Homo sapiens: one gene and its partners. The protein of the gene in region 3 interacts with the protein of the main gene of each other region in a pairwise test. Each region holds a gene or a part of one and is shown on either strand. Other genes may lie near its edges. The genes, in order: PDHX, DLAT and SIRT4.

Region 1 (7,112 bases), on a different chromosome or scaffold from region 3:
TCAATAAAATAAACACCCAACAGTAAGCCAAAGCTTTCATGAAGAGTAAAATAACCCAGTGGAAAAAAGAAAACATTGCCTGGCCCAACACTGCCACTTATAATTTAACAACCATTGCTCTCTCTCGACTTACAAAAATTCTGGCCAATATTATTTTTTATTTCCTATCAATATTAGATAAATATGGAATGAGTACATTGCTTTAAAACATAAACTCAATTTGAAACATTTACTATTACTGCCAATAAAAATGTAGCACATAACACTACTGAAATCTTACATTAGTTCATAAGCCTATTTGATTAATCTTTGTCTACCCTACTAGACTAAGTTTCAACAGAACAGGGGCCATCTGTTTTGAAAGACACAAACATTTAAACTAATGGAAAGACACAAACATTTAAACCAGTGTTGCAGAACAGAAAGACCCATCATGATAAAGATGTCAGTTCTCACAAAGTTAATTTAAAATGTGATACAATCCCATAAAAATACCCCTCACTCCTACCCATGGAGCTAGACGAACTGCTTAAAATTCATTTGGAAGAATAATAAAATAAGAATGAACTAAGAAAACTGATTTAAAAAAAGAGCAAAGCTATTGTTATCAGATTTTAAAGCATACAATAAAACATTTCTAATTAAAAGTGTGGTACTAAAAAAGTATGGTACTAACTCATGGACAGATGGATCAGTGAAATAGAAAAGAAAATCTAAAAAGAGACCAAACTGTATATGGAAATTGCTTTATAACAGCACAAGTGAATAAAATTCAAAGGGATAATGAAAATAATTTTTTAAAAATATATTTCCTTGTTTTAGAAATGTAAATGTTATTGCATGATTTCACATATTTAATACTGTATAAAGTTTCACTGTTCTACGCTCTAATTTTCTGCATTTATTACCACTTCTAAGGATCTTGCTTAGTTACCAAATTAGAGCTGTTCTTCAGTAATGCTATAATTATTCAGAAAACAACTCTTGCATAGAATACAATTTACAATGATAAAAGCAATTAAAAGTACAAAAGAAGAACAGTGTACCTCCTTTTAAATCTTAAGACTGAATAAGCTCTTTTTATTTTCTTTCAAAAAAACATGATCATAATAAATAATGGAACTGGTTATTACAAAAAGCAAACACATACTCTTTAGTGAATATCCCCCGAGGGCCAGTGGCTGTGCCCTGGCTAGCATCCAGTGAGTGTTTTTCCAGAATATTGCGGGCAGCTGGACTTAAACGGAACCTAAGAAAAAAATATGAAGGTTAATAGAACCAATTAACACTTACATTTGATTCAAATAGATCTAAATGTCAACAGTTTCGCAAATAATTAAAAAAAAATCTTATAATAAAGCTAAAATGACTCCCACAGATGGTCACAGTCAAATAATCTGTACCAATTTGGTTTATTTTATTCTTTAAACACTTTCGTAAAAATTTAGTTACTATTTCTAAATATGATTTTAATAAGAATAAATATTAATTAGGGGAAAGAGCTGCTATTTCAACTAATTACTTTCACATGGGTGCTCATCACAACTACCAATTGTTTCCTTCGTATATTTTGTTCTATCATTTCTTCATATATTTTGTATTGTGGCAAATGATACCTAAAATTTATCATTTTAAGCATTTTTAGGTGTACAACTGAGTGGCATTTAGTACAATCACACTATTGTGCAACCATCACCACCATCTATCTCCAGAAATGTTCATCTTTCCAAATTGAAACTCTGTATCTATTAAACAGTAACTCTCCATTCCTCCTTCCTCCCAACCCCTGGTAACCATTCTCTTTGTCTCTGTCAATTTGACTACTCTAGGTAACTCACATAAGTAGAATCATACAGTTATTTGTTTTGTGACTGGCTTATTTTACTGAGCATAATATTCTCAAGGTTTATCCATGCAGCATTTATCAGAATTTCCTTCCTAAAAAGCTGAATCACATTTCATAGCATTTTGGACTTATGAGTTGTTTCTACCATTTTGCTACTGTGAATAATGTTGCTATGAACATAGATGTACAAATATCTCTTTCCAGTCTTTGCTTTCAGTTATTTTGCATATATATCTGGAAGTGGACCTACTAGATGATATGGTAATTTTAATTTTCTAAGAAACTGCCATACTGTTTTCCACAGTAGCTGCAGCATTTTACACTTCCACTAGGCAACAACAAGGGTTCCAAATTATCCATGTCCTTGCCAACACTTGTTATAATCTGGGTCTGGTTTGGTTTTTGTTTGTTTGTTTGTTTTGATACTAGCCATCCTGAAGGGTATGAAGGGGTGTCTCATTGTGGTTTTGATTTTCATTTCCCTAATGGTTAGTGACGGTGAACATATTTTTCATGTGCCTGCTGGCCATCTATGTATCTTCTTGGGAGAAATGCTATTAAAGTTCTTCACCTGTTTTTTAATTGGGTTGTTTTGCTGAGGTTGAATTGTATGTATACACAATTATATATATTTATTATATATATAGGATACCTCAGATTACATGACTAATGGTATATCTCTTGTATGCAAAGTAGTAAACAAATTACTACATGGTCAGATAAAGAAAATAAGCCTGATTAGTACAGATTAAAACAGGCTGGATCTAGAAATTAAAGCTAAGAGACAGAAACAACTGTGGAACTTGCTGCATTTCAGGGAAGTATTAAATAACTCTGATATGGGCCCAATGTTACTAAATCTTTAGATTTTTCAAGAGAATCTGAAATTTTAGATTTTTATATAGGATTAGTAACCAACCAACCAAAAAAAAATTTTTTTTTCATTCACTGTGTGCCCAACAGTATGCAGAGTTCACAGGTCAGTAGGTTTTTAACCTACACAGTGGGGCCTGATTCATGCGAGTCTCTGATGATGACTGATCTTAATTAGGGTACATACTATTATTATCTTTGCAAGGGCAGAAGACCATTAGTTAGAAAGCATCAGTGAGACTGTCTTCCAATTTTTAGGGTAAATGAAAGAGGAGACAGTAAATGGGAGTCAAGGCAACAGAGTCAGAAACACTGCACTAGGAATTTAAAATCAGTACTTCAAAAAGCAGGCCAGGCGCAGTGGCTCACGCCTGTAATCCCAGCACTTTGGGAGGCCGAGGCAGGCGGATCATGAAGTCAGGAGTTCGAGACCAGCCTGGCCAACATGGAGAAACTCCATCTCTACCAAAAATACAAAAAAATTAGCCAGGCATGGTGGCACATGCCTGTAATTCCAGCTACTCAGGAGGCTGAGGCAGGAGAATCGCTTGAACCCAGAAGACCGAGGTTGCGGTAAGCTGAGATTGCACCATTGCACTCCAGCCTGGACAATGAGATCAAAACTCCGTCACCCACCTCCGCACGCCCCCCCCTAAAAAAAGCACTGTGGATTCTTTTCTGACAATGATAAACTAAAGGAAAAAATGTTTAAGAATGAAGAGGTCTACTTTATGAAGATCTTTTTCTCGTAAAGAAAAAGTAATGTTGTATAATTATATAGAATACTAAATAAATGAAATGTTAGAATTTACAGAGTTCTTCTATTAAAGCAATGTAAAACTAAAGTGAAATGATGTGTATTAAGTTATCTGTTTTGTTACAGAACAGACAAAATTGAGCTCTAGTCTGTGCCGGAAAGTCATAATGCAGACTAGTTTGAAAACGAATGCATGTTAAAACATGAATTCTATTTTATATCAGATAGACATTTGAGCTTGGAATTCCTGTAACAGTAATTAGAACTCCATAAATGGGAACAGAGTATCAAGTTTGGTATATTGAATACCATTTTAGACTTCTAAAACCTAATTCAACCTCAACATGGACACATACTGTTTGGTTTTCCATTGTGCAAGCAGGGCTTTTAGAGTACCTGGAACATAGCAGATATTCAGTAACTATTTATTTACTGAATGAACAATGATGGTTAAAAAAAAAAACACACACTCTAAGGTCTGAGTGTGCTGAGAACAGCAACTTCCTACGTGATGTACAACGATGTGCGAATATGATAATGATTACAATTCCATAAGAACTGCCATAACTTTTTTTTTTTACATCATCCTTTGAATAAATATATACTCACCGTAGTGTCCCGGGTATGTGTTCCTTCTTGACAGGGATGGAAATCTGTGGTTCTGGTGAGGGGCGAGGCTCTGAAGGTTTTGAAACTGGTGGTGGAGGACCTACGTCTTTGGGAATTTCAACATGTTTCCAATCTTCTCCTTCTTCTACTATCAAACCAATTAGTGAACCTAGCCGTATATTTTTACTTCCTTCTTCAACCTATATTTAAAAAAGAAGTAACTGTAGAGAAGTAAAACCCCATGACTGCATTAAGTAGTTTGTTCTTTTGTTGGGTAATTCTCCCCTTAAGATATCTTAATTTGAGCTAAAAGCTGCTTCCAAGACAGTTTGCCTCTGCCTTCCACCTGTCACCTTCTCCACTTTCTCCCACTTATGCCTTCCTTCACCATTCTCCTCTTCCCACTTGCTAATGCTACCTTCTGAAATAAAGGATAAATCTAGAATGTATCCTCTTTCTGAGAGCCTTCAAATAAACATGTAAGATCCATCATTATCATCTTCTTTTTGATGTCAATACAAATCCAAACAGGAGCCTGTGGCTACATATCTTAACCATTTGTCTTTCCCAGAGAGTTTCTATGCAATGGCTTTAGAATTCTAAAAGCTCAGAAGGGATTAACTCCCTCAACTTAGTCCAATCTACTAAAATTTACCTAATGCAAGAATCTTTTCAGTAAACTTAGTCTGAAAAGATGAACATTCTAATGTATAGATAGAACTGGTTAACTATTCCAGTTAATGTTAAATATAGTCTACTTCTTTATATTTAATTATTTCCCTGTATATCTATTTACAAAACCTGAAAAATAAAATAAAACCTCATGAGTTTTTTTATAAGTATATCAGAAACACAGTGGTGTCTCAGTTAATAAAGCATTTCTTCCACAGATAATGCCAATTAAACACTTAAATAAAATCAAAGATAATGTTTTTAAAAGTTAAGTATATTTTAAGCATTTCAGCAGCATTAATTTATAAAGAAAGGGCTAATTCTAATTTACTTACTAAAAAGAAGTCCCTAGAAAACCTTCAAATAACAATATTTTATAAGTTCACTCCTGGAAGAAAATGTCATTCCCTTAAAATCTTCTATTATTCCCTTTCAATTACTCTAAATAAGGTTCATTAGCTGTATTTAATGAACAATAGAATGATAGGCTGCAGGACGTCCACTAATACAGTAATGGTAAGGAAAAGCATAACTTCTAGAATGAGTTTGACATATCAGAGTAACACTAATTTCAATGCTTACTGGTATGTTCACTATCGTTAATAAGGCATAAGTTATAAGGGGTTAGGAAGCTAAGTTTACTAATTACTGATGAAGAAGAAAAGCAGCAATGCTTTCATGAAGCAAAATACATATATATATATATGAAATTAGTATAGAAAGCTGAATAGGAATGTTTAATGAATTACAAGCTATGGAAGAATACTAAGAAAGCCAAGAAAAATCTAGTTGCTTAGTTGTTTGCCACATACTAAAAAATTTTGCTTCTGCAGAGTTCCTTTTTCTTTACTATGTCAAAAAGATGAGTTAAGATTATTATTAGACCAATATTTTTCTTCTAAAAGTGTTTAATTACCTGCTTGTGAATTGCTAACTCAAAAATCAAAGTAAAATGACTAATTTTCTTTAAAAATGTATACAAAAAAGCACTGTTAAGTGACATGAAGTCCACTTGATGTTAATTCCTTTCAAAACTGAATCAGAAATAGGATCAATATCCAAGTACAAAGAACATCATTCAAATGTAAAGCATTAAAAAAAGTTTTGCTTTAAAAATATCAATAGATTTCTAAAATCTGAGTCAGACAACTGTACTACATCTGAAAGTGGTACCTCACCTTCTGTTTCATTTACTGTAAATCATATAAATGATTCCATATATACTCTACCAACGTAACATTGACACCTTCACAAGTAGGCAATAAACAGCATTTATCATCATTTCAATTTTTACCATTATCTAAATATCAAATAAAATTTATTTTTAACTATTCACATTTTTTTCTATTTAAAAAAGTGACACCATGAAGCATGAAACCCAAATACAATGGACAAGGACAAGTGATATACAACCATACAACTTGAATATATAACAGAAGATAAAATACAGTTGATTATAATTCCATTTAAAGTCATTAAAATCTCTATATGAATTTAAGATAATTTCTTCAACCTTTTCTATTCCTTTGGTGCAGAGATCTTTCAGAGGTGTGCTAATTTCCTGTAAGCATTTGCTTACACTGTAGTAGGCAAATACTCAAAACTGGTGTAGACTTAGTATAAATACGTAAATAATACTCTTTGCAAAACTGTTTAAAAACCAAGCAGGCCTCTGTTACTGTTCCCTTTCCTCTCTGAGCTACCTCCATGGTAGCTCATGGTACCTCCATGGATACACTCTGCCCTACCAAAGCATCTGGAGCTAAGGACACCTCAAATGCCAGAGTTTTCTTATGCACTCAGCTTACTTGACCAAAGCCCTCTCTTACTCTTCTGCCAATGATTTCTTAATATTAAATGCAGGGTTTTTACACATAGCTCTATCAACTTAGAGCTCATCGATACTGAAATATTGAATGTTGAGTCTATCATTTCAAATATTAGCCTTCCCTCCCAGTTGTGTACAGACTTCCTGAGTTTCAACGCTGGCTCCACCACTTACTAGTTATGTGACCTTAGTAAAGTTTCCTTATCTCACCATGCTTGTTTTCTGAGCTGTAAGATGCAAATAACAGTAGCTACTTCACATTGTTGTTATGAGGAATAAATGAGTTATATGTAAGGCCCTTAGAATAGTGTCTGATAGCTAGTAACTTGTTTTCATTTTCATTGTTAAAGGCATTATTATTGCTGTTGTTATTGCTGTGGTGTTTTCCTTCAAATTATGGATTTTTTAAAACAATACATTCAACATGGATCAAGATTAGACTACAGGGGACTGACCCCTTGGTATGGGTTAGAAATTCATGCTTAAAGGCTTAGCATGTGGCTGGCAGCACTAAAGGGCAAACATCA
Region 2 (7,112 bases), on a different chromosome or scaffold from region 3:
CCAAAAGATCACTCATGCTCATTTATAGTAAATTCTTATTTTCACCTTCAGCCCCTGGGCAATTTGTTATAGTGCTTGAGTCTATAGATTTGTATTTTCTAGACCTTTTATAGAAATGGAGTCATAAAATATGTGGTCTTTTGCATCTACTTTCTTTCACTTAACGAAATGTTTTTGAGACTCATCCATGTTGTAGCATGTATCTGTAGTTTATTCTTTTTTATTGCTGTATAGTGTTTAATCGTATCAATATACCTCTTTATCATTCACCAGTTAACATGTTTTCCAGTTTTTTGCTATTATGAATGATGCTACTATGAGTATTTACATACAGTTATTTGTGTGGACATATATTTTTATTTCTCTTCAGTAGATTCCTAGGAGTGGAATACCTGAGTCATAGGGTAAAATTATGTTTAATTTTTAGAGAAACTTCTACATTATTTTTCAAAGTGGTTGCACCATTTTACCTTCCCACCAATAGTGGATAAGTGTTCCAGTTTCTCTATGTCCTCATCAATATTTGTTACCGTGTGGGTGTGAAGTGAGAACCATCTACTTGTGAGAGTATCTCGCTTTATTGCACTTTGATTTATTGTGCTTTTTTATAAATTGAAGGCTTGTGGCAACCCTCTGTCAAGCAAGTTGATGGCACCATTTTTCCAACAGCATGTGCTCACTTCCTGTCTCTGTGTCACATTTTGGCAATTCCTAGAGTATTTCAAACTTTATTATTGTATCTGTTATGGTGACCTGTGATCAAGGATCTTTGATGTTACCATTGTAATTGTTTCAATGCCCCATGAACCATGCCCATATAAGATGGCAAACTTCATTGATAAATTTTGCATGTGTTCTGACTGGTTGATAGAATTGATAGAATTATCAACCAGCTGTTCCTCTGTCTCTCTCCCTCTCCTTGGGCCTCCCTATTCCATGAGACACAATAAAACTGAAATCAGGCCAATTAGTAACTCTACAATGGCCTCTGAGTGTTTCAGTGAAAGGAAGACTTTCACGTCTCTTACTTTAAATCAAAAGCTAGAAATGATTAAGCTCAATGAGTAAGGCATGTCAAAAGCCAAGATCGGTTGAAAGCTAGGCCTCTTGTGCCAAACAGCCAACTTGTGAATACAAAGAAAAAGCTCTTGAAAGAAATGAAAAGTACTATCCTGGTGAACACACGAATGATAAGAAAGTGAAACAGCCTTGTTGCTGATACGGAGAAAGTTTTGAGTGGTCTAGATAAAAGATTAAACCAGGTACAGCATTCCCTTAAGCCAAAGCTTAATTCAGAGCAAGGCCCTAACTCTCTTCAATTCTTTGAAGGCTGATAGAGGTGAGGAAGCCGCGTAACAGAAGTTTGAGGCTAGCAGAGGTTGGCTCATGAGGTTGAAGGAAAGGAGGCCATAATAACATAAAAGTACAGGGTGAAGCAGCAAATTATTCAGAAGATACAGCTAAGATAATTGATATCCCTCATCAGTCGGCAGCCATCAACATCAAGGCAAGATCTACCAGCAAAAAATTACAATTCACTAAAAGTTCAGGTGATTTTTAGCATATTTTAGCAATAAAGTATTTTTAAATTAAGGTGTATACATTGGTTTTTTGTTAGTCACGATGCTATTGCACTCTTAGTAGACAACAGTGTAGTGTTAAGCATAACTTTTGTATGTACTAGGAGATCAGAAAATTCATGTGACTCGCTTTATTGCAATATTATTTTGGTGGTCTGGAACTGAACCTGGAATATCAAGATATTTCTATACTTAGATGAAGAAATTGAGGTTGTCTGTTAATTCTAACCAAACACCATTCATTTACTTGTTCATACACCCATTCAACATTTATTTAACATGTACTGTTTACTGGATTCAGTGGTGAACAATATAGGGAATACTGTCCTTACTGTCTCAAAGGGAAGATGATTGAACAAGCAATATTGTAATAATTTATTCAAGAAAGCAGTATTTGCTGTGTGATACCTTGGCTACAGTTCTGTGGTAATTAATGAGTCATACACGGTATTTTTATTAGAGCAGGTTCCTGTGTTTGTTTGCAAGTGACAAAATCCTGCTCTAGCCAACTTAGGCAAATTGGGGGATTTGGTACCCACTGATCTTTTTGGAGCTTGTGCCTAGAAAGAGCTGGAGTTCTTTGGAGGCAGAGCTGTGCCTTTGTTTGAAGTCTTAACTTTTTCTCGATTGCAGAACACTAGCAGGGGCCCTTAGGCAGACCCCAAGGAGACCACGGATAAAATCCATGAATCCATGAGCTTGTGAACTTCAGTTGGGGTGGGGGAAGGGGGGGGTGGGGGGGGGGAATCACCTTTTTTTTTTTCTACTAACATTTAGCATTTCTTCCTTTTATAAATGTAGAGAACAGATCAAATGTTAACAGTACTTGTGTCTGGTGACCAATAAAAATCAGTTATTTTCATATCACATTGTAGTTGTATATATCTCAAAATGTTATTTTGTTCATCCCTGCTTCAAAATGATAGCCATTATTAGACCTGCAACAAGATCTTATTATTGAGTGAATACAGAAGCACATTTGTCATAATTTTGCTTTTGAACCGTTTGATAACTGAATTTCAGTATAGTTTCTCTCTTTTTTCTAGTAATTTGAGTATTTTCAGTGTTAAAAAGGTATTCTGAGATAAGATCCAGATGCATAGGGACACATTCTGTAGAAAAGATTGGGACTCCTTGATAACAGAAGATCTGATATTGTGTAAAAAAAAAAAAAAGATTGGGACCCCTTACTTTTACGTTCTTCTGAGGTACCACCACCCATGTATCCTGAGCACTCCTATTTCTTGCTACAATGCAGTTCTTTCCCTTCACTCTTCCTTTCATCTGCTCAAACTACTTGCAGAGACTCAACTGCAGCCAATGTACGTCCACTCAAAATCCAAGGAGTTCTGATTGGTGGGGTTTTCTTTCAGCTGCATTCACGTGTCGGTCAAGGCAGACGGCAGGGGATGTTAGACGATATGTGCGAAACCAACCTACTGCTGCTGACACATTTCTCATTCTTTTTTTTTTTTTTTTTTCTTGGCAGGCGGTGGGGTCAGGGGCAGGGGCAGCGTTGGGGGATGGAGTCTCGCTCTGCTGCCCAGGCTGGAGTGCAGTGGTGTGATCTCAGCTCACTGCAACCTCCACCTCCCAGGTTCAAGTGGTTCTCCTGCCTCAGCCTCCTGAGTAGCTGGCACTACAGCTGTGCACCACCATGCCCAGCTAACTTTTGTATTTTTGGTAGAGACAGAGTTTCGCCATGTTGGCCAGGCTGGTCTCAAACTACTGACTTCAAGTGATCCGCCCACCTCAGCCTCCCAAAGTGTTGGGATTACAGGCATGAGCCACCGTTCCCGGACCTCTCTTTGATTTTTAATAACTACAAGTCAAGGAGAGGGCACAGCAAAATGTAAAAATTAGGATAGACATCTTAATTTTTGTCTTTGGCTGAACAATAACACACATTGGTTCAAAAAATTTTTGAAGTAAATATAAATATTCTTGCTTAACCTGGCACACAGGCTCTTAATAAACAGTTTTTTATTATATTTATTTTTCTTTTTAAACAGAAATCATGTTGTTGATGTCAGTGTTGCGGTCAGTACTCCTGCAGGACTCATCACACCTATTGTGTTTAATGCACATATAAAAGGAGTGGAAACCATTGCTAATGATGTTGTTTCTTTAGCAACCAAAGCAAGAGAGGGTAAACTACAGCCACATGAATTCCAGGTAGGGTATTAATTATTGCTTTCTAATTATGTTATTTTTAAGGTTTGCATAATGCATTTATTGCATTTTTCACCTTTTGATTCTGTCACGTAATTTTTTTTTTTTTTTTTTTTTTTGAGACGGAGTCTCTCTGTCACCCAGGCTGGAGTGCAGTGGCATGATCTCGGCTCACTGCAAGCTCCGCCTCCTGGGTTACGCCATTCTCCTGCCTCAGCCTCCCAAGTAGCTGGGACTACAGGCACCTGCCACCACGCCCGGCTAGTTTTTTGTATTTTTAGTAGAGACTGGTTTTCACCATGTTGGCCAGGATGGTCTTGATCTCCTGACCTTGTGATCCGCCTGCCTCAGCCTCCCAAAGTGCTGGGATTACAGGCATGAGCCACCACGCCCAGCGTAATTCTTTTTTGAAACAGAGTCTCACTCTTGTCACCCAGGTTGGAGTACAATGGTGCAATCTTGGCTCACTGCAACCTCCGCCTCCCAGGTTCAAGCAATTCTCCTACCTCTGCCTCCTGAGTAGCTGGTATTACAGGCATGCACCACTGCACCTGACTAATTTTGTGTGTGTGTGTATGTTTTTAGTAGTGTCGGGGTTTCACCATGTTGGCCAGGCTGGTTTCAAACTCCTGACCTCAAATGATCCACCCGCCTCACCCTCTCGAAGTGCTGGGATTACAGGTGTGAGCCACTGTGCCTGGCCTGCCACGTAACTCTTATTGACACACCGTTCTGAAAATAAAGTAAAATTCAATCATATATCCAAAAGAAGATATTGTTTGAAAATAAGACATTTTCCGGCTGACATTTTTGTTCATATTGTAATGGTTGTATATCTTCAGTAATGTGTATTCCATTCAGGCCTTTCTTAAGACCTTGCACCTTTTTAGCTTAAGGTCTTTTCACAGAACATTTGTCAAGTTTTCTGATTTATGTTGACAAACTATAATTTATTTTTAATTTTTTTTCCTCTAGGGTGGCACTTTTACGATCTCCAATTTAGGAATGTTTGGAATTAAGAATTTCTCTGCTATTATTAACCCACCTCAAGCATGTATTTTGGCAATTGGTGCTTCAGAGGATAAACTGGTCCCTGCAGATAATGAAAAAGGGTAAGTGCCAAAATGGAGGGGAAGTCGTAAGCTAATTTTTATTACACTGTACACTTGTCCTGTGGTATCCTCAGGGGATTGGCTCCAGGAACCCCCTCAAATATCGTGATCCACAATGCTCAAGTCCCTGATATGATATGATGTAATATTTGCATATAACCTACACACATTATTCTGTATACTTTATTCTTGACTTATAATAATACAATACCTAAACAGCACTTCATTCACATGGATCCAGTGTAGTGCCCGGTGTGCAGCAAATTCAAGTTGTGCTTACTGGAAATTTGTGGAATTGTTTACTTTCTGGATATTTTGATCCATGGTTGGTTGAATCTATGGATTCGGAACCCATGGATATATGGAGGGTCAACCATACCTGTTTTTGAGTATCAGTGTTTTTTTTGTTTGTTTGTTTGAGATGGAGTCTCACTCACCCTGTCACCCAGGCAGAAGTGCAGTGGTGCCATCTCGGCTCACTGCAATCCCCGCCTCCCAGGTTCAAATAATTCTCCTGCCTCAGCCTCCCAAGTAGCTATAGCTGGGATTACAGGCATGTACTACCACACTTGGCTAATTTTTGTATTTTTAGTAGACATGTTGTTTCACCATGTAGGCCAGGCTGGTCTTGATCCTGACCTCAAATGATCTGCTCACCTCAGCCTTCCAAAGTGCTGGGATTACAGGAATGAGCCAGTGTGCCTGGCCAGAGTCTCAGTTTTATATATAGTTATTGGCATGCTATATTGTATCTTCAAATAAAATTATATATATATAAAAAATACGAAATTCTTCAAGGCAGCAACTTTACTAAATGCAGTTAGTCCTATTTGAGGTGGAAAGCCTTATTTATTCTAGGTGAGGAGTCAGCATGCTTTTTTTTAGTTGTATAGTAAGTATTTTAGGCTTTCTGGGACATATGGCTGCTGTTGCAAATAATCTGCCATTGTAGTATGAAGGGAGGCATAAACAAGACAAATGAATTGCAGTAAATCTTTACCTAATAAAAACAGGCAGAGGACAGGATTTGGCCCATTGCCCACCCATACTCCAGGTATCTGGTCTGTTTCTTCAAGCTATAAATTTGAGCTAAAGGTATAGGAGACTGGAAGAGTAGATAGGAAGTATTACCTGGTTGGGATTATAGGGTAGGAGTGAGCATTTGGGTGGTTACTGGCTGAAATGCAGTATTTTCTTTCAGAATATCTAAAATGTCTTTATCTTTTTCTAGGTTTGATGTGGCTAGCATGATGTCTGTTACACTCAGTTGTGATCACCGGGTGGTGGATGGAGCAGTTGGAGCCCAGTGGCTTGCTGAGTTTAGAAAGTACCTTGAAAAACCTATCACTATGTTGTTGTAACTAACTCAAGAATTTCTAAACTCTCCCAGGTCACACTGATTCATTCTTAACAAGATATTTATATGTTATTAAACAGGTGGTTCTTTTTATTTTAACCAGTTATTTTTATTATTGAGTCTGTCCAGATAAGTTATTTATAATGGGCATTACTGAATTTTTAAAATGCCGATTACACCCAAATATTGTGCACATTTAATAATCAGACACCAGATTTTTAGCTCTGTACTCCTAATTAAGGGACATGTATGTGGCCTTGCCTAGCCCTTTGGTGATAAGTACTTCCTCTAGGAAATGTACGATAGGTAGAATTGTGGTTCCCTAAAGACAAGTACATAAAGGTGACCCTGATGAAACCTTGAAGTTCTGAAATTTAACTGCCTAAAATGTTCTCCTTAGATGTGAGAGAAAGAGAAATCAGAAAAATTAATTCTCTTGGGGGAAGGGCTTGAATTGAAGCTTTACTTTAGAATTTAGCCCTGGTTTGAAATTTTCCATTACATGATCTTGGTTTATCATCGATGGGAAGGGTAGAAAACTTCAAGGAAAATAAGTGAAATTTTAAAAGTCAGCATTTTCTTAGACCTCTTCAGCTGATTGTTTATTTTTCTATGAATTCCTACACATGGTTATTCCCCCCTACTTGAGATAATCTAAATATAAACCAGCTACTTGATGTAACTGAGAATTTGTGTGGATATTTATTTAAACAAATGTGTAATTTTGAGTACAGAATTCAACAGTTACCTCCAAAAAAGAAACATTGTTAATATAATTTAACAGAAGTTGTGAAACTAAAATTTTCTAAGATTAACTGGTAGTTCATTGTAAATGAACATAATGAACAGAATTTATGACTCCACTGTGGAAAATGCTATCAAATAACTAAG
Region 3 (7,434 bases):
CTTTCAGCAGATGTGGTCAGGTTAACTAATGCAGAAAGGGCTGTCAGTGGCTGGAGTGCAGTCACAGGATCATGGCTCACTGCAGCCTTGAAAAAAAAAGGGGGTGGCCGGGCGCAGTGGCTCACACCTGTAATCCCAGATACTGGGGAGGCTGAGGCAGGAGAATCACTTGAACCCGGGAGGCGGAGGTTGCGGTGAGCCAAGATGGCGCCATTGCACTCCAGCCTGGTCAACAAGAGTGAAACTCCATCTCAAAAAAAAAAAAAAAAAAAAAAAAAAGGAGGGGGCTGTCATATGAGTTTCCCCGCCTAGTAGATCCTACAGCTACTGACTTTCGCTGTTGCTGGAGCTACTACTCCCTGTGTACTAAGTTAAAAAGAATCGGCCAGGCGCAGTAGCTCACGCCCGTAATCACAACACTTTGGAAAGCCTAGAGCCCAGGAGTTCGAGACCAGCCTGGGCAACATGGTGAAACCCCGTCTCTACAAAAAAATACAAAAATTAGCTGGGCTTGGTGGCCCACCTGTAGTCCCAGCTACTCAGGAGGCTGAGGTGGGAGGATGGTTTGAGTCCAAGAGGTTGAGGCTGTAGTGCGCAGTGATCGTGCCTCTGAACTCCCGCCTGGGTGAAAGAGTGAGACCATGTCCCCAAAATAAAAAAATAAGCTTTTAAATAATTAAAGTGGCAGGGCGCAGTGGCTCATGCCTGTAATTCCAGCACTTTGGGAGGCTGAGGCGGGCGGATCGCGAGGTCAGGAGTTCGAGACCATGCTGACAAGCATGGTGAAACCCCGTCTCTACTAAAAATACAAAAATTAGCCGGGCATGGTGGCGGGCACCCGTAATCCCAGCTACTCGGGAGGCTGAGGCAGGAGAATCACTTGAACCCGGGAGGCGGAGGTTGCAGTGATCTGAGATCGTGCCACTGCACTCCAGCCTGGGCACAGAGCAATATTCCGTCTCAAAAAATAAATAAATAAATAAATAAATAAATAAATAAATAGCCGGGCGCGGTGGCTCACGCCTGTAATCCCAGTACTTTGGGAGGCTGAGGCGGGCGGATCACGAGGTCAAGAGATAGAGACCATCCTGGCTAACACGGTGAAACCCCGTCTCTACTAAAAAAAAAATACAAAAAATTAGCCGGGTGTGGTGGCGGGCGCCTGTAGTCCGGAGGCTGAGGCAGGAGAATCGCGTGAACCCGGGAGGCGGAGCTTGTAGTGGGCCGAGATCTCTCCACTACACTCCAGCCTGGGCGACAGAGCGAGACTCCGTCTCAAAAATAAATAAATAAATAAATAAATACAATAATAATAATAATAAAAGTGGCGGGGTGCAGTGGCTCACTCCTGTAATCCTAGCATTTTAGGAGACTGAGGCAGGTGGGTCACCTGAGGTCACGAGTTCAAAACCAGCCTGGCCAACATGACGAAACCCCATCTCTACTAAAAATACAAAAATTAGCCGGGCGCAGTGGCGAGCGCCTGTAATCCTAGCTACTCCGGAGGCCGAGGCAGCAGAATCACTTCAGCCGGGAAGGCAGAGGCTTCAGTGAGTGAAGATCGCGCCACTGCACTCCAGCCTGGGCAACAGAGCTAGACTCTCTCAAAAAAAAAAAAAAAAAATTAAAGTTAGTTTTACTTACAAGTCTTACTGAGGATTACAGACCGAGGGCTATAGTGTGGGAGCAGTTCCATCAGACTGGTCCAACACAGAATTTCAGCCACTCATATACAAGTGGTGAGTGTACGGCGCCTGCAAAATCACATTAAACTTGCTTCAAAGTTACATTAAAGCACAATCATATCAAAGTTTGGGTGCAAGAGTATATCTGGTTATGGATTACAGAGGTATCATCACTAACCCCATCAGACATTATCTTGTGCAGGAAAAGGCAATGACCAGAGTCATTTATCTTTTAATGAATATAGTGACTTGGAAGAGACATGGAGGGCTGTGTGCTCTATTCTGTTTTGTCTTCAAAGCATCTTTCTGGAGAGCTGTATGTTGTCACAGAGTCAGGGGCTTCATGAAACGATGCTGCCAAGTCGAAATAAGCAGGCCCGGCATGGTGGCTCACACCTGTAATCCCAGCACTTTGGGAGGCCAAAGCAAGAGCTTTCCTTGAGTTCAGGAGTTTGAGACCAGCCTGAGCAACATAGTGAGACCGTGTCTCGACAAAAATAAAAAATAACAAAATTTAGCTGGGCGTGGTGGTGGATGCCTGTGATCTCAGCTACTCGAGAGGATGAGGTTGGAGGATCCCTTGGGCCTGGGAAGTAGAAACTGCAGTGAGCTGTGATGTCACAACTGCACTCCAGCCTGGGTGACAGAACGAGACCCTGTCTCAAAAAAAAGAAAAAAAAAAAGCAGAAATGGGCAAACTACTAAATGGTCATTTTGCCAATATTACCTCCAAAGATACAATGATAGAACCAAAAACCTAAAAACTCTTTCTCAAGCTTCCACATTACTTCTCTGCACTTCAGTTCATCTTTATTTATTATTATTATTTTTTGAAGAGATGGGATCTCACTTTGTCACCCAGGCTGAAGTGCAGTCGCACAATTATGGCTCACTGCAGCCTCGATCTCCTGGGCTCAAAGTGATCCTCCCACCTGAGCCTCTTGAGTAGCTGGGACTACAGGCACACACCACCACACCCCGCTAATTTTGTTTATTTTTTGTAGTGAGTGGGTCTCACTATGTTGCCCAAGCTGGTCTTGAACTTTTGGGCTCAAGTGATCCTCCTGCCTTGGCCTCCCAAAGTGTTGGTATTACAGGTGGGAACCACTGCACTCAGCCCAATTCATCTTAAAATGGGGGAAGGGAGTCCTTAGGTGGTCTTCAAGGTCCCTGCTGGCCGCCCACCTTTATGTCCAAAGACACTTATACATTTATTGATTTAGGTGATGCTGCAGAGCGGCAGTTCTGGTTGTCTACACATTAGGAACAATTAGGAAATTTGTAGATCAGAATCCCTGGGAGTGAGACGCAGGCCTTGTTTGATTAACTTAATAAAAAAAATATGATAAATAAAATTGGAGAAGCCAAGCAGGTTAAGTACATTAGTCCAGGTATAATATATTTGGCTTCATATTAACTGTAAAAACATCACTTTTGGCTGGGCACAGTGGCTTACGCCTGTAATCCCAGTACTTTGGGAGGCTAGGGTGGGCAGATCACGAGGTCAGGAGATCAAGACCATCCTGGCTAACATGGTGAAACCTTGTCTCTACTAAAAATAAAAAAATTAACCGGGCGTAGTGGCATGCGCCCATAATCCCTGCTACTCAGGAGGCTGAGGCAGGAGAATTGCTTGAACCCGGGAGGCGGAGGTTGCAGTGAGCCGAAATGGCACCATTGCACTCCAGCCTGGGCAACAGAGCGAGACTCCGTCTCAAAAACAAACAAACAAACAACAACAACAACAACAACAAACTATCACTTTTTCAGATATGTATAAACACATTTCTTCACAAGTTCAAGGTATTTTACCAATAGCAAATAACTTGATACTGTCGTTGTGAATGAAAAGGATCACAAACTCTGATGTTTAGAATGAGTCAAATCTAGGCCGGGAACAGTGGCTCAGGCCTGTAATCCCAGCATTTTGGGGGGCCGAGGTTGGCGGATCACCTGAGGTCGGGAGTTCGAGACCAGCCTGGCCAACATGGTGAAACTCTGTCTCTACTAAAAATACAAAAACTTTAAAAAAAAGTCAAATCTAGATCCATGATTAATGACGTGCTCATTTCACATTGCATGTTTGTATCAAAACATCTCATGTGGGTAAAGCATAGACAGGCACAGAGAAAAGAAAAAAAGACAAAAAATAAGAGAAAAGATGGCCGGGCGCAGTGGCTCACGCCTATAATCCCAGCACTTTGGGAGGTCAAGGCGTGCGGATCACCTGAGGTTAGGAGTTCAAGACGAGCCTGGCCAACATGGCGAAACCCCCGTCTCTACTAAAAATACAAAAATAATCCCAGCTACTCGGGAGGCTGAGGCAGGAGAATCGGTTGAACCCGGGAGAGGGAGGTTGCAGTGAGCCGAGATCGTGCCACTGCACTCCAGACTGGAGTTTTTTCAAAAAAAAAAAACAACAACTCCGTCTTAAAAAAAAAAAAGAAAAAAGAAAAAAAATCTTATGTACACTATAAATATATACACCTACTAAGTGCCCACAGAAATTGAAAACAAAGAAAAAAATCCATGATTAAAAGCTTTTATATTAACGGGGGAACCTCTGACCAGAAAGAGCCGACAGGGGGCGTTCCTGGATGATCTGGGGCTGTCAATTGCGAGACGCGGAGGATTGTGGGACTTGTGGTTTTTCTCGCATCATTTAAGCTTTCTGGACTACATGTCCCAAAATGCAAATGCAATCAGACGGTCCCACTGTGGGGTGTGAAGTGTCCGTAGAGCTGTGAGAGGTAAGTGTGTTCTGTGTGTGCTGCGGATTTCTAGAAGTTGTGGATTTCTTGTGAGGGATTCTATTTCTCCTCTTTGCCCTCGGTGGGACCTGGAAGAGAGTAGTTGTTCCACTGATGCACGTTTTCAGCGGGGGTTTCCCCTGACCCTTTGGTCTCGGGAAACCGGACTGTGTGTTTGTTCAGCTGTTCACGTTTTGCTGTGGAATGTCAAGGAGAAAGCGGGGTCCTGATCTCAGATCTGGAAAGCCAAACATAAAATAATGTTTACATACGGGGTGCATGTCACTAGAGGATTTATGCATTGCATTGTGTCAAATAATATGTCAAAGTTTTTTCTTTTTCTTTTTTTTTTTTTTTTTGATACGGAGTCTTGCTTCTTCGCCCAGGCTGGAGTGCAACGGCGCGATCTCGGCTCACTGCAACCTCCGCCTCCCGGGTTCAAGCAATTCTCCTGCCTCAGCCTCCCTAGTAGCTGGGATTACGGGCACGTGCCACAATGCCCGGCTAATTTTTTTTGTATTTTTAGTAGAGTCGGGGTTTCACCATGTTGGCCAGGCATGTCTCGAACTCCTGATCTCAAGTGATCTGCCTGCGTCGGCCTCCCAAAGTGCTGGGATTTCAGACGTGAGCCACCGCACCCGGCCCTCTATTGTTACAGCTAGAAAAGCTGACGGGCAGGGGTCTTGTCTCTCTGATGTGTCCAAGTAGCAGAGCTTGCAGTGGAGGGTAAACTAAAATAAGGGGGAAATGAAAAAATAAAAGGAATGCGTGTGTGTGCTTAATTACATGAACAAAATCAAACAAAACCTGACTCATTAGGGCCAGACTCAGAGGCTCACACCTGTAATTCCAGCACGTTGGGAGGCCGAGGCGGGCAGATCACTAGAGCTCAGGAGTTCGAGACTAGCCTGGCCAACATGGTGAAACCCTGCCTCTACTAAAAATACAATAATTAGCCGGGCATGGTGGCCATGTAGTCCCAGCTATTCTGGAGGCTGAGGCAGGAGAATCACTTGAACCCGGGAGGCGGCGGTTACAGTGAGCCAAGATCATGCCACTGTACTCTAGCCTGGGCAACAGAGGGAGACTCTGTCTCAAAAAACAAAACGAAAACAAACAAACAAAAAATGAGAAAAAAAAAAAACCACCCCAGTTTCTCACATGAGGCTTCTTTTTCTCTAGAATGAAGATGAGCTTTGCGTTGACTTTCAGGTCAGCAAAAGGCCGTTGGATCGCAAACCCCAGCCAGCCGTGCTCGAAAGCCTCCATTGGGTTATTTGTGCCAGCAAGTCCTCCTCTGGACCCTGAGAAGGTCAAAGAGTTACAGCGCTTCATCACCCTTTCCAAGAGACTCCTTGTGATGACTGGGGCAGGAATCTCCACCGAATCGGGGATACCAGACTACAGGTCAGAAAAAGTGGGGCTTTATGCCCGCACTGACCGCAGGCCCATCCAGCATGGTGATTTTGTCCGGAGTGCCCCAATCCGCCAGCGGTACTGGGCGAGAAACTTCGTAGGCTGGCCTCAATTCTCCTCCCACCAGCCTAACCCTGCACACTGGGCTTTGAGCACCTGGGAGAAACTCGGAAAGCTGTACTGGTTGGTGACCCAAAATGTGGATGCTTTGCACACCAAGGCGGGGAGTCGGCGCCTGACAGAGCTCCACGGATGCATGGACAGGTGCAGGAGCTGTACACGGTTTGAACGCAAACCCGTGTGTTGTTTTGGGAGAGTAGGGACCTTGGCTGTCTTGATCACCACAGTCTTAGACCTTGAGAAAAGGATTTCAGAGCAAGTTGTTTATTTTGCAGTTGATTCCAGTAAATTCATTGACGGAGCAAGGATGTAAAACAGGAAAGAGAGGAAAGCCAAGAAAGTGTGTGTTAATGAGTGGGTTACTGCCTTGGGCACTGGGGTTCAGTCCTGTGAGGGACCCTCCAACTGTCTAGGACATGCCTGAGGATTGTCTCAATGAAACTTGAGGACTGGGGCCGGGCGCAGTGGCTCACGCCTGTAATCCCAGCATTTTGGGAGGCTGAGGTGGGCAGATCACATGAGCTCAGGAGTTCGAGACCAGCCTGGCCAACATGGTGAAACCCCATTTCTACTAAAAATACAAAAATTAGCCAGTCGTGGTGGCACATGCCTGTAATCCCAGCTGCTTGGGAGGCTGAGGCAGGAAAATCTCTTGGGAGGCAGAGGTTGCTGCAGTGAGCCGAGATTGCACCACTACACTCCAGCCTGGGCAACAGTGCAAAAAAAAAGAAAAAAAGAAAAAAAAAAGTTGAGGATGGTGCACAGTGGCTCATACCTGTAATCCTAGCACTTTGGAAGGCTGAGGCAGGAAGATTGCTTGAGGCTAACAGTTCAGGACCAACCTGGCAAACACAGTGAGACTCTGTCTCTATATAAGTAAAGTAAATTTTATATATATATATATATATATATATATATATATTTTTTTTTTTTTTTTTTTTTTTTAAAGAAAGTTGAGGCCGGGTGTGGTGGCTCACGCCTGTAATCCCAGCACTTTGGGAGGCCAAGGCAGGCAGATTACCTGAGGTCAGGAGTTCAAGACCAATCTGGTCAACATGGTGAAACCCCGTCTCTACTAAAAATACAAAAATCTGTTGGAAGTGGTGGCACGCACCTGTAATTCCAGCTACTCAGGAGGCTGAGGCAGGAGAATCGCTTGAACCTGGGAGGTAGAGGTTGCAGTGAGCTGAGATCATGAGCTGAGATCATGCCACCACACCCCAGCCTGGGCAACAGAGCAAAACTCCGTCTCAAAAAGAAAAAAAAAAAAGAAAGTTGAGCAAGCTAGGGTGATTTTCTTTTATTTTCTTTTGTGTTTGTGTGTGCACGTGTGTGTGTGTGTGTGTGTGTGTGTATGACAGGCTTTCACTCTGTCACACAGACTGGGATGTGGTGGTGTGATTATAGCTCACTTCAGCCTCAATCTCTTGGGCTCAAGTGATCCTTTCACCCCAGCCTCCTAA

What was found.
Region 1: the proteins of SIRT4 (region 3) and PDHX interact in binary tests that used the Homo sapiens proteins (3 or more experiments, as listed by UniProt).
Region 2: the proteins of SIRT4 (region 3) and DLAT interact in binary tests that used the Homo sapiens proteins (3 or more experiments, as listed by UniProt).

What each region holds. Positions count from the first base shown.
Region 1 is NC_000011.10:34,954,557-34,961,668, reverse strand, and holds part of PDHX (pyruvate dehydrogenase protein X component, mitochondrial isoform 1 precursor), read right to left. Parts: intron 4,286-7,112; coding exon 4,086-4,285; intron 1,250-4,085; coding exon 1,151-1,249; intron 1-1,150.
Region 2 is NC_000011.10:112,056,311-112,063,422, forward strand, and holds part of DLAT (dihydrolipoyllysine-residue acetyltransferase component of pyruvate dehydrogenase complex, mitochondrial isoform 2 precursor), read left to right. Parts: intron 1-3,592; coding exon 3,593-3,755; intron 3,756-4,409; exon of another isoform or gene 4,410-4,427; coding exon of another isoform or gene 4,428-4,484; intron 4,485-4,727; coding exon 4,728-4,864; intron 4,865-6,095; coding exon 6,096-6,225; 3' UTR 6,226-7,112.
Region 3 is NC_000012.12:120,297,944-120,305,377, forward strand, and holds the start of SIRT4 (NAD-dependent protein lipoamidase sirtuin-4, mitochondrial), read left to right. Parts: upstream 1-4,377; 5' UTR 4,378-4,435; intron 4,436-5,617; 5' UTR 5,618-5,618; coding exon 5,619-6,115; intron 6,116-7,434. UniProt on the Homo sapiens protein: Acts as a NAD-dependent protein lipoamidase, biotinylase, deacetylase and ADP-ribosyl transferase. Catalyzes more efficiently removal of lipoyl- and biotinyl- than acetyl-lysine modifications.